Linked DNA regions of Homo sapiens. The protein of the gene in region 2 interacts with the protein of the main gene of each other region in a pairwise test. Each region holds a gene or a part of one and is shown on either strand. Other genes may lie near its edges. The genes, in order: HOXC13 and ELF1.

What was found.
Region 1: the proteins of ELF1 (region 2) and HOXC13 interact in binary tests that used the Homo sapiens proteins (3 or more experiments, as listed by UniProt).

The regions. Positions count from the first base shown.
Region 1 is NC_000012.12:53,941,542-53,947,044, reverse strand, and holds the end of HOXC13 (homeobox protein Hox-C13), read right to left. Parts: intron 2,046-5,503; coding exon 1,789-2,045; 3' UTR 501-1,788; downstream 1-500. UniProt on the Homo sapiens protein: Transcription factor which plays a role in hair follicle differentiation. Regulates FOXQ1 expression and that of other hair-specific genes.
Region 2 is NC_000013.11:40,946,080-40,953,368, forward strand, and holds part of ELF1 (ETS-related transcription factor Elf-1), read right to left. Parts: intron 5,358-7,289; coding exon 5,250-5,357; intron 3,895-5,249; coding exon 3,727-3,894; intron 1-3,726.

The DNA.
Region 1 (5,503 bases), on a different chromosome or scaffold from region 2:
AGGCTGTGCTGACCCCATCCCAGCCCCAACTCCAGTCCTGAACTGGCTGAAGGTATTCGGGGCCCTCTGGGGCAATAGAGCACCAGGAGCCTAAGGTTAATTCCTCACTGCCACCGGCTGCCGCATTTACCTCATCCAGTTCCCAGCTGGGATGCTACTTTCTCAGTACCCAGAACCAGATCTGAGCCCCAATTATTAACCGAAGTAACCATCAATGTATTTTTGTCACTGCCTCCAGGCCTTTCAGTCACCAATTACGTCTTTCCTTCCTCAACAAACACTCATCTGAGTTGGACATCAGGATGGAAAGTTTTCTCCTATATAGATAGTATAGATAACCCAAAAACTTAAGTGGAGCAAAACAAGGGTTTGGAATCTACCCAGCTGGGAGCAATGTCTATACTCCTCCCCCTGATCATTCTGGCTGAGTCAGGGCATAGTAGACTGTCCTGAAGAGCCAGTGGACAGAATAGACTTCAGAAAGAATCTGAGCAATAAAATCAAGGCAAAAAAAGATATTTTATTTTAAAAACATGTTTGTGGGTTTTTTTCCTTTTTGCATTCAGTACATTGTCATTCAGACATCACAATACTATATACAGATACACAACATTTTTTAAAAAAGCCTATTCCTGATGAACATTTCAAAAGAACACTGTTTTGTAATGCACCAGTGGGAAGGGAAGAGGCAAGGGGCCCCCACAGCACCAAGGTGGCCTTTGAGGAGGGAACTGTTAGGCAGCATCTACATCTAGCTAATTGAGGGCCAGATCTTCTTGCCTCTTGAACTAGATCCTCTAGCTTTCCTCTGGAAATCAGTAAAGGTGAAAGTGTGAGGAGTCATTCCTGGGCTAGTGCCCTGATGGAAAGGTGACTGGACAGGGACTTTGTTGAGGGACCCACTCTCCATCCCCTTGGAAGAGATGTTTATCCTTAGAAAAAAGTTCTGCTTCTGTACCTGGACTAATCCCCAACCTTACCACCTAGAGAGAGAGAGAGGAGAGAGGAGCCCTATTTAGCAGCGTGGCTGGAGTCTTTGTCCTCCTTGGATTTCCACATGTTGACTGAGAGAGCAGAACAGGGGAGGCAGTGGGGCAAAGGCAGCTCCCACCTGGCCCCAGGAAATGCAGTTTCTTGGTTGGGATGGAGTGTAGGGGCTGCGTCAATGCTTTTACGGAATTCCAGCTTTTACGGAAACATCCATACTCCAATCACGCTGCCAGGTCCCTAATAATTATCATGAGTATTAACACGACTTTTAAAATACGCACAGAAAATCTTTACTGGGAAATCTTGCCTAAGGAGTGCGGGAGGGACAGCGAAGGAAAGTATGAGCTGGACAGATCCTGCTCCGAAGCTGCGCCCTTAGGGAAGGTCCTCTAAAAGCCTGGTCATAGGATGAGGCAAGAATTGGGGCCATTCGGGATTCCCCAACCCTGCTTTGGTTGGAATGATTGGGCTCTGCGCTGCCACCAGACTTTCTGGCAAGGTGAGCGCAAGGAGGAGTAGAGGTCGACAGCCTTCCTCGCACGGCCCACTCGGGACCCATTTCCAAAGCTGTTGAAGCCACGTGAGTCCCATCTGGATGGGGGTGGAGGCTGGGGATGGGATAGGGAGTTGGGGATGGCCCAGCAGCACGGCCATGGAGCCTCTCTGCCTCCGGGCGGCGCGGTTCTTCTCTTTCCTTAACATTAAATACTCTTCTGCACCCGCGCAGCGTCTTTCCGTGGGTTCGGTTATGGTACAAAGCGGAGACATAAATAGATGGGGCAAGCAGCGGGTGGGTGGTCAGGTGGAGTGGAGATGAGGCGCTTTCGATTTGCTGACCACCTTCTTCTCTTTGACCCGCCGGTTCTGGAACCAGATGGTTACCTGGCGCTCAGAGAGGTTCGTGGTGGCGGAGATGCGCCGGCGCTTCTCTTTGGTGATGAACTTGCTAGCCGCGTATTCCTTCTCTAGCTCCTTCAGCTGCACCTTAGTGTAGGGCACGCGTTTCTTGCGCCCGCGCCGGTAGCTGCTCACCTCGGGCTGCAGGGGAACCACGTCTGCGGGGAGATAAGGCAAGCGGGAAGAAGTGAGGCAAGCGGCTGGACTGAGATAGAGGACCCGAGGCTGCCTAGGCACAGAGTTCTGGCAGGGGCTCAACGGGGCCAGAGGATTGCACTGCATAGTGAAGCTCCCTAATGCTTTTCATTTCTGTTATTTTAGCAAGACCACAACTATGATGAGGCCACTGGGCTCGAAGTTTAAGGGAGGGGGCGCCAAAAACTCAGTAATCAAGACGATATTTTAATGCAATGTTTAAAAAAGCAAAACGAATACAAAAACATCCATGATGAACAAAATATCAATTAAAAAAATAAACATGGGTTCGGTATTACTGATTTTCTTTTGTTTCAGGCCCCAATATGGCTCTTCACAGCACTCAATATTAGGATCCTTGTATATTTAGAAGGGACCCTCCAAATTCCAGCCTGGCCTGCCATGCTTGCAGAATTTCAGATATTCAGAAAAATCCCTCCTTCCTGCAGTTAGATCGCTTGGGTCCTTATTAGTTTATATTCTGCCCCGTTGCCAGAGGAAGACATTCTGTTGTATATTTCAGGGAGGGCATGGCAGGCAGGGGGTCAGCTTCAGTGGGCCCAGACCACCAGATGAGTCTTCACGCCTTTGGACACTGGCCCTACGTTAGGGATGTGAGGCACAGATAGAAGATAAGTGTCCAGGTGAAGCCAGCCTGCTTGGAGGTCCACACTCTAGGAATTGGGGTCCAATGTTATGAACCACCTAACACCCAAGGTGGGGGGTCCTGAACCTGAGATATAGGGAATCAGGTGTCTCTGGAAGTAGGGGGTCCACACTGCAGTCCCACCAAAACAGAACAAATTCTGTTCCAACCGCCTTCCCTCTCCATTCCTTCACAGCTGAAGGAAACTGTCTACATCCCTTGCACCAACCATAACCCTAAACCCTAGATGCCTGTCATCCAAACCAATATTACCAGTTCTGTTTCTTTAGGCTCTGAGAATTTCACAGAAACTAAAACCAATATATATCACTTCTAACTCCATTTTCTACTCCACCCTCATCCCTGTCAATAAAGGTCACGCAACACTTTCAAGGGGAAGTGGGGGAACTAGGGAGATTATCTGGATAGCTCAGCCCTCAATTTTTTCCATGTAATTATTAGACTTTAGGTGAAAGCTAATGAGGAGGGCTGAATATTTGGGGTTTCCCCTTCATTCCTACCACATTTTGAAACTATAGACACAGCCCAGAGGGAAGACACAAAGTTCTTTCTGAAATGTTTGTTCCCATCCCACCCTCACAGAACACTTTCCCTGTACCCATCCCCATTGGGTCTGCTTTCTCTCATGGACTCTATACACAATGGGAAGAGTAGTGGTCACAGTGAGACACAGGGGAAAACAAAATGCTCAGGAAGAAAATGGGAGACGGGGTCCAATGGCCTCATTTGACTGTCTTCTGGTGACAATTTCTCAGGAAAACTGTTGGACCTGGCATTTTTCTCTGCCTCTGTGAGAATAAACTATGATTTAAAAAAATCTAAAAAACAAAATAACTTTATTTAAACAGTATGGATCCTTTAGGTTAAAAAGGATTTGTTTTTGAACACGACCATTATCTTTAAATCTCTCAGTTCTCAAATTTGTTTTACTCTTACAGAGGTAACCATGATTTGGGAAATTGACGATTTGTTGACAAGAATAGAATGAAGAGGATATGTAGTGATACCATGAGTTTGTTGCTTTTGTTGTTGTTATTGTTGTTTTTAATCCTCAGAACATTTTTTCAGGATTATTTTGTTAAACTCATTTTACAAGATTAGGAATCTGAGGCTCAGAGTGGGTAAAATAACTTAAGTGGCAGAACCAGATTTTAAAGCCAGACTTTCTGACTCTTAAAATGATACAGTAAGTTTTAAAATGGAAATAGGCCAGCTAATACAATCCAGCTTTAAAACACCTCCTTTTCCCTGGAGAAGAATACAGTAGGGTAAAGGTGGGTTTTTGTTTCTGAATTAGCCAGATAATTGTCCCTAATTTTTTACTTTACTCTCTTTAAACTCTCACAATTACCTATCCAATTTTGGTTTCCTAAATTCTAGCTCTAAATTTCCAATGAGATTTAATCAACCCTAAAAAAAATCAGTTTAAAAAGTAGACAACTGGTTTAAACTGGTTATTTTTCTCTATAGGATGCCAAGGATTGATTTAGCCAATTTGTCCTGGATCAGACCAACTGCAGGTTGGTTTGGCCTCCTGGGGAAATAACTCCAGTCTTGCCTTCTCAAAGAAGCCCCCTTTCTTTGTCTGCTGCCTTATCTGGAAAGGAAATGGTATGTAGAGATGAAGAAACATCTGGTAGCTTGGACCTGGAGATGTGCGTACACTGCCTAAAGTGAGTGGGGGCTTAGTTATTAATCTTACAATCACCCCTTCCCTAGTCTCCCTCCAGATCACATACACGAATGACTTCATGCCTGGAAACCTAATAGACACCTTTGAGGAGTAAATAAAAATCATCTCAATGCTCAGCCATGGCTTTCTTTTTGGGCTTCGGGGCCCCTCTGTTCAGCTCCCCACAGCCCACCCACCCTTGACCACCCGCCCCCCCACAGGCAAGCTCTGGGCTCTGAAGAGTGCCTTGTCCAGCTAGAAATCCAGCTTGCTACTCTTCCCAACCCAAATCCAAAGGCTTGTCAGTAAAGACTTCTAGTGTGGTCCAAATAGCCCACTGTTTCTTTCTCCCTCTTTCTCTCTCCTAAACCCCATCTCTCTTTTTCTCCCTTTCTGATTCTCTCCTGGAATTTCTGCTTCTCTCTCTCTCTCAAAAAAAAAAAAAAAAAAAAAAAAAAAAAAAAAAAAAGTCTACACTCACCGTAGGGAGAAAAAAAAAAAAACCAGAGCAATAAAGCAAGAGTCTGTATAATTGGGAGAAGGAAGAAGCCACGACACATCTTGGCCCTAATTATCTGGATCTTGCTGAACAATTGCCTCCATCTCCCACACCAGCCCAGACTACCACAGATGAGGATTCTCAGAGCCAGAGGCACTGTAGAGAGACAGCAGTGTTTATGCCTACATGTTGCCGAACAAACCACAATTGCACAGACAGAGTTATCTTGAAATCTCACTACTTCTAAAAGATCTCTGAGTGGGTAGAAAGATGGAGAGTGTCTGAAGATAATTTCTTATTCGTCTGCCTCTTGTCTGTACCTCTGCACTCACTGAGATACATCAGCCCAATTCTATTTCCACACGGGGATTGTGGGAGCACATAGCTGCTGAGGCATGCTAGGTTTTATATCCATTTCCATGCCATAATTTGCAAGTGTATTAAATCTCAATTGGGATATACTTTTTTTATTTCAAAGATATTTTTCTCTAGGAGGCTGTGATCAAAAAAGTATTTATTTTTAGTGGAGTTTTGTTTTGTTTTGTTTTGTTTTGTTTTGTGTCCTAGGAATCTTTGAGATGTT
Region 2 (7,289 bases):
CTGCCCGCCTCAGACTCCCAAAGTGCTGGGATTACAAGCATGAGCCACTGAGCATGGCCCAATTTCATTTCTTATTTCTATAAATTCCATTTGGTTCTTTATCATACCAATAGTTTTTCAACATTAAGTAGGATATTAGCCTTTTATTTTTTAAGCAGCTTTATTGAGGTATAACTGACATATAATAAACTACGTATGTTTGATGTTTACAATTTGACAAGTTTTGACTATGTATACTAACACCACCACTACATTCAAAACAATGAATATATTCATCACCCCAAAAGTACTTTGTGCCCCTTTGTAATCCTTACATCTCGCCCTTCCTCACCCTGCCCAATCCACAGGCAACCACTCATCTGTTTCCTGTCATTATAGATTAGTTGGTAGTTTCTAGAGCTTTATATAAAAATAAAACTGACCCTCAAACAAAACACAGCTTTGAACTGCACAGGCCCACTTATATAGGGATCTTTTTTCAATAAAGTTACATCAAGTGTGCCTGTGTCTCCTGCCTCCCCTTCCACTTCCTCCATCTCTTCCACCTCTGCTACTCCTGAGACAGCAAGACCAAACCCTTTTCTTCCTCCTCCCTCCTCAGCCTAGCCAACATAAACACAACAAGCATGAAGACCTTTGGCCAGGCATGGTGGCTCACACCTGTAATCTCAGCATTTGGGAAGGCCAAACCAGGAGGAATGCTTGAGCCTAGAAGTTTAAGACCAAGCTAGGCAACATAGTGAGACCCACCTCTACAAAAATAAAAATTAAAAATTAGCTGGGTATGGTGGGGCTCGCCTGTAGTTTTACATGGATTTTTGGCTGCAGAGGCTGACGGCCCTAACCCCCACATTGTTTGGGGGTAAACTGTAGAAACATATTTTTTCTTCTGGCTTCCCTCTTTTAGCACAATTATTTTGAGAGATTCATCCATTTTTGTTGAATGTACCAATCGTATATTGTTTTATTGTTGAGTGGTATTTTTACTGTGTTGATAAAAGTGCCACTGCACTCCAGCCTGGGTGAGAGAACGAGACTCCATCTCAAAAAAAAAAAAAAAGATACACAAATGTTCTTAGCAGCATTATTTGCAGTTGCCCCAAACTACAAACAACCCAAATCCCATTAACTGCTGACTGGGTAAACAAATACTACATATTTAAGAAAAATTTGTACATAAATGGCCAGGCAGGGTGGCTCATCCATGTAATCCCAGCACTTGGGAGGTCGAGGCGGTGGACCACTTGAGGTCAGGAGTTCAAGACCAGCCTGGCCAACATGGTGAAACCTCATCTCTACTAAAAATACAAAAATCAGCCAGGTGTGGTGGCACATGCCTTTAATCCCAGCTACCTGGGAGGCAGAGGCAGGAGAATCACCTGAACCCAAGAGGTGGAGGATGCAATGAGTTGAGATCAGCCATTTATGTACAAATTTTTCTATAAACATAGTTAATCCTGGGCCTGTCTTAACCTGGGTTTACAACTAGATTTTAAACTACCACTAACATTAGGAATTGCCAGCCAAGTAATTAACACAGATGTAGCCCCAGGACTGTAATAACTATGGGGCACCAGGCAGAAGCTCTTATAGAATTGCTCAGGTGGGTTATACATTCAACCTAGGCCATACAAGATTTCCTCAGATAAAGCCCCGTTGAAGCTGAACTCACATTTTGGTATCACAGAATACATGAGGAAGACACTTTCTGAGTGAGAAGCAGTAGACTAGGAAACCCTAGGATTAGTTCTCTAAGAATCACACATAACAGAATTATTAAATAGAAACTTTACATAGTATGATTAGAGGTTTTAAAGCAAAAGAACAAAAACATGGTCGAAGAATAAGGCTATTAAAAAAGACTAGGTGGGAACTTCCTCTTCTAGTCAAGATGGAATAACAGAACATGGATTTATCTTCCCACCTGAAACAATTAAAAACACAGAAAAAAAGGTATGAAACAATGGTACTGAAGAAATTGGACATCGGTCAACAAAAGCCAGTGATCCCTGAGAGACAGGAAATAAATGAGGCAAGTCCTATGACTGCCCCACCTTAATACATGGAGAAAAAATTTTTTGGAAAGCAGTTTGTGTTTCTGAAAAATATTTAATGTACACTTAACATGTGATCCAGCCATTCCACTACTAAGTATTTACCCAAAAGAAATTAAACCAGAATTTCTCCACTCAGAGGCCTGGCTGAATGGGACCCAAGCTTCCTTGACATCTGTCTGTGCCAATGGGTGGATTTCTTTCCCCCAAGAGGGTATATCCCTTCAAGGGTCCCAGTTACATGCTGAGGTCTCTGTCCGATACCCCATCTTGCGTAGCCCAAGACCTAAGCTTCTGCCTCAACACGGACAATAAAACCAGAGCCCCTCGGCATATCCTTCTCAGCCCTTCTGAGCTGCTGCAGTGTCGGCTCATGTTTACTATTTTTATTTTCCTCTTCATTTTCAGCTCTTGGAATTTCCCTGACTTTCACATGAACTTAGGTTACTGGGTGGGTGGTGATGCTATTAATCAAGACATTATACTCAAAATACTAAGCAAGCATGAGTAGAATCAGAAGGCAATAAAATGGAAAAGGTGTCAGACTTTAGAATGCAAGTGTGGTCCTAATTGGCAAAAAGTTAAAAATTCCCACTCAACACATCCTAAAATACTCCTCTTCAGTTACTTACCTGCTGATTTCCAACCCATTGTATTTTTCCAACTGGAGTCTTATACTGGAATCACCGGTACAGACTGGAGGCTTTCAAACAATAACCCCTGGGAAGGAAGCTGACTAGACCTTACCCAAGGACAAAAGGGTTTAGATAAAAATTTGAGGCTTTAAAAAGTTGGAAAATCCCTTTTCTGTAAGATAGACCAAACTTTTTAAAAGTATAAAATAATTTAATTATTATCATTATTTTTTTGAGATGGAGTTTCACTCTTGTTGCCCAGGCTAGAGTTCAATGTTGTGGTCTCAGCTCACTGTAACCTCCACTTCCTGGGTTCAAGTGATTCTCCTGCCTCAGCTTCCCAAGTAGCTGGGATTACAGGCACCTGTCAACATGCCCGGCTAATTTTCATATTTTTAGTAGAGACGGGGTTTCACCTTATTGGCCAGGCTGGTCTCAAACCCCTGACCTCAGGTTATCCACCCACCCCCACCTCCCAAAGTGCTGGGATTAAAGGCATGAGCCACCGCACCTGGCCCAATACTTTAATTTTTTAAAAGAAATGATTCTACTATGAAGAAATACCTCTTTTTCTTATTTATTTATTTTTATTTTATTTTATTTCTTAGAGATAGGGTCTCAGTCTGTTGCCCAGGCTGGAGTGCAGTGGCATGACCTTAGCTCGCTGAAACCTGTAACTCCTGAGCTCAAGGGATCCTCCACCTTGGCCTCCCAAGTATCTAGGACTACAGGTGCCTACCGTGCCCAGCTAATTCTTAAAATTTTTTGTAGAGATGAGGTCTTGCTTTGTTGCCCAGGCTGGTCTCAAACTCCTGGCCTCAAACAATCTTCCTGCCTCGGCCTCCTAAAGTGCTGGGATTACAGGCATGAATCTCCGTGCCTGGCCAAGAAATAACTCATAATTTCCATTTTGTGCCTTCAATGTTTTTCTTACATAAGTTTTAACTGCAGCAGGAAAGAACTATGTAGAATAAAAGTGATATCTAGATTTCACACCAAGACTTGACTATGCGCCCTAAACAAAGTAACCCACCTACCTTTTTTCCTCTTAGGCTGTTCTGGTGATGAGGCTCCCGGTGAGTCTGCATATTTTTCTTGCACCTGCTGTGTTTCCATCACTTCAGGAATCCCATCTAATGTGACGGACACATGGGTGACTGGGGCAACAACCATGTCATCTTCAGGTGAACTAAATATATTATTATCTAATGAAAATAAAATCAACTAATTATAGTCCACTGTGTATTATAAGTTAAAAAACGATTGAGAAAATTTCTTGTTTCTATTATGACTAGAAGATTAAAGTAGAAATAAAATCTTGAAATCTATTCCTGCGTTTAAGTTCCCCTTCCCAAAATCAAATACCCTAAACCAGTCCAGGCACGGCGAGCTATTTCAATGTCTTTCTTACTTGACTTCCTATCACCAGTCTGTCTCATCTCTCCTCTTGATTATTCACATTGCTGTGAGAGTTATTTTCTGAAACCTAAGTCTGACCTGACCATAAAATTAGGGGAATAAAAAACAAAACTGACATACCTTTCCATAGTTCATAGGAAAAACAAAAAACAAACAAAAAAATAATCACAACCCATCTCTATAGCATGCCTTACAAAGCTTCTGTAATCTAGTTCCAAACCTACCTTTCCAATCTCATTTCCCACCCACCATGAAGCTTACACTTCAACCACACCAAAACATCTTGATCTCAAAGATTTCATTCATTTTTTTTTTAACAGATCTGTGTCTTGTATCTTTAACTCCATTCCCTCCAGCTTGAATGACCTTTCATGTCTCTTCTACCTATTAAAAGCTTGTCATTTACAGCCCAGGTCAGAATACTCCTTCAATGAAGCCAGTCTCTGATATTCTCAGCTAGAATACCCACTGCTACTAGAGCAATTCGCTATCACTCTTGTGGCCTTTATTCTTGGCTTTGTAGTTATTTACATAAGTAACTGTCTTCAAAATTAAACTGTAAGCTTGAGGAAAGGAACAGTATCTGCTCATTTGTATCTCATGTTATTGCCTAATTATTGCTGCTGTGAATATAGCAAATATTGAATAAACATTTTAGACTGATTTAGCAATAATTTACTTTATGAATTTGATTGCTTGTCAGAAAAGCCCAAAGGAGAACAGGAATTTTAAAGCAGATCAATAATGTGGCAGTGAATTTTATGCCATGATGTGTCAGTAAAATTTTCAATAGATTGTTGCCTATTTGCTGATAACTACAGAGATGACTAAATTATAATCATTTGGGCCCTTGATACCCTAATACTCTCATCAATATGTTAAGAGAAGAAATTCTGCATGATCTTCTATTTGGTAAGTAATAAATTACATTTTTTTGTTCCCAAAGGCTTCATTCTCAAATTAAAATGTCATCTTTAACTCTACGTTTTTGCAAAGGCACCTCAATTCCTACTATACCTTAAAATGTGATTGTAACAAAAAATATATAACATCATTTCTAATCTCTTGATTTTACTAATAAAGAAAGATGGCAAGAGTAACTTAACAAAGTACATAAACATAAACAATCATAATCACTCACTTATTCGTTTTTCATCCAGCATAGGGCCAGGGGAATCCATATTGAGGAGTGCCTCAGCAGCCTCAATAGTTTCAATTGTTTCATCCCCGTCATGACAAGAAGCTTCAACTGCAACACATTTAAAGAGAAAATTAAATTAACTACGAGACATCTGTTACTCTGAAAGTCATACACCGCTTATCTCTAGAACCAGAATACATCATTTAATATTTTAGTTTATATATATATATAAACTATAAACACACAAAATCATACCAAACCTGGCTGGCGCAGTGGCTCATTCCTGTAATCCCGCACTTTGGGAAGCCGAGGCAAGCAGATTGCTTGAGGTCAGGAGTCTGAGACTGGCCAACATGGAGAAACCCTGTTTCTACTAAAAATACAAAAAATTAGCTGGGCGTGGTGGCACGCACCTGTAGTCCCAGCTACTCAGGAGAGTGAGATAGGAGAATCGTTTGAACCCAGAAGGTGGAGGTTTCAATGAGCTGAGACTAAACCACTGCACTCCAGTCTGGGTGACAGAGTGAGACTCTGTCTTAAAAAAAAAAAACAGAAACTATTACATTAAAAAATCAATATTTCCTTAATATTAAATAGCCAACCAGCATTCAAATGTTCAATTGTGTTAAAAAATCATAAATGGTGGCAGTGCAAGGAAAGACAAGACAGTTTTTTGCTTAAATCAAATTAAGTCTGCATATTGCAATTGACTGATACATTTCTTAACTTTCTTTACATTTCTGAGTTGCCATTCATCTGTCTAGCTTTTTTTACTTTGCAATTTATTTGTTGAAGAACTCAGGCTGTTTATTCATGTAGAATTTCCCATAGTTTGGATTTTGCCAACTATATTCCTATTGTGTAGCTTAACATGTTTTTCTATACCCCCTCTAACTGAGTAGTCATATCTGGAGGCTTGATGAAATTCAACTTTAATTTTTTTTGGCAAGACTAAAAAAAAATTTATGTATTTTGATGACAGCTCAAAATATAATCTAAGCCTCAAATTTCATAAAATCATTAAATCTTTTTGGTTTTGCTTTTTTTTTTTGAGACAAGGTCTTACCCTGTCTCCCAGGCTAGAGTGCAGTGGCTCAATTATAGCTCACTGCAACCATAAACTCCTAGGCTCAAGCAATCCTACCACCTCAGCCTCCCGAGTAGACAGGACTACAGTCTCAGGCCACCATGCCCAGCTAATTTTTAAAATTTTTTTAGAGACAGGGTCCCGCTATGTTGCTCACTTGAATTCCTCAAGCCAGGCCTGAATTCCTCAAGCCAGGCCTTGAATTCCTGGGCTCAGGTGATCCTCCCTCCTTGGCCTCCCAAAGTTCTGGGATTACAGGTGTGAGCCGCTGCATCTGTTCAAATATTTTTATTATGAAAATTTTAAACAAAATAAAAATTGTGGAGTATAGTATATATAATGAATCCCCATGTGCCCATTCCTAGCTTCAACTATTATCACCAAATGGCCAATCTTCTTTCATCCATACCCCACTCACTGCCCTCAAGTCCTTACCCTCTGTACAGGATTATTTTGAAGGAATCTAAAATACCATATTTTATCTCTAAATACTTTAGCATGTGTATCTAAAAGATGTCTAACACAATACTACTATCATATCTTAAATATACTAACAATAAATCTTTTTTTTTTTTTTTGAGACAAAGTTTCAATCTTGTTGCCCAGGCTGGAGTGCAATGGTGTGATCTTGGCTCACCGCAACCTCTGCCTCCCAGATTCAAGCGATTCTCCTGCCTCAGCCTCTTGAGTAGCTGGGAATACAGGCATGTGCCACCATGCCCAGCTAATTCTGTATTTTCAGTAGAGACGGGATTTCTCCATGTTGGTCAGGCTGGTCTTGAACTCCCGACCTCAGGTGATCTGCCCGCCTCGGCCTCCCAAAGTGCTGGGATTACAAGTGTCAGCCACCGTGCCCGGCCTACAGTAATTCTTTAATATCATCTATTATAGGCTGAATGGTATCCCCCAAAATTCTATGTTGACATGCTAACCCCCAGTACCTCAGAATGTCT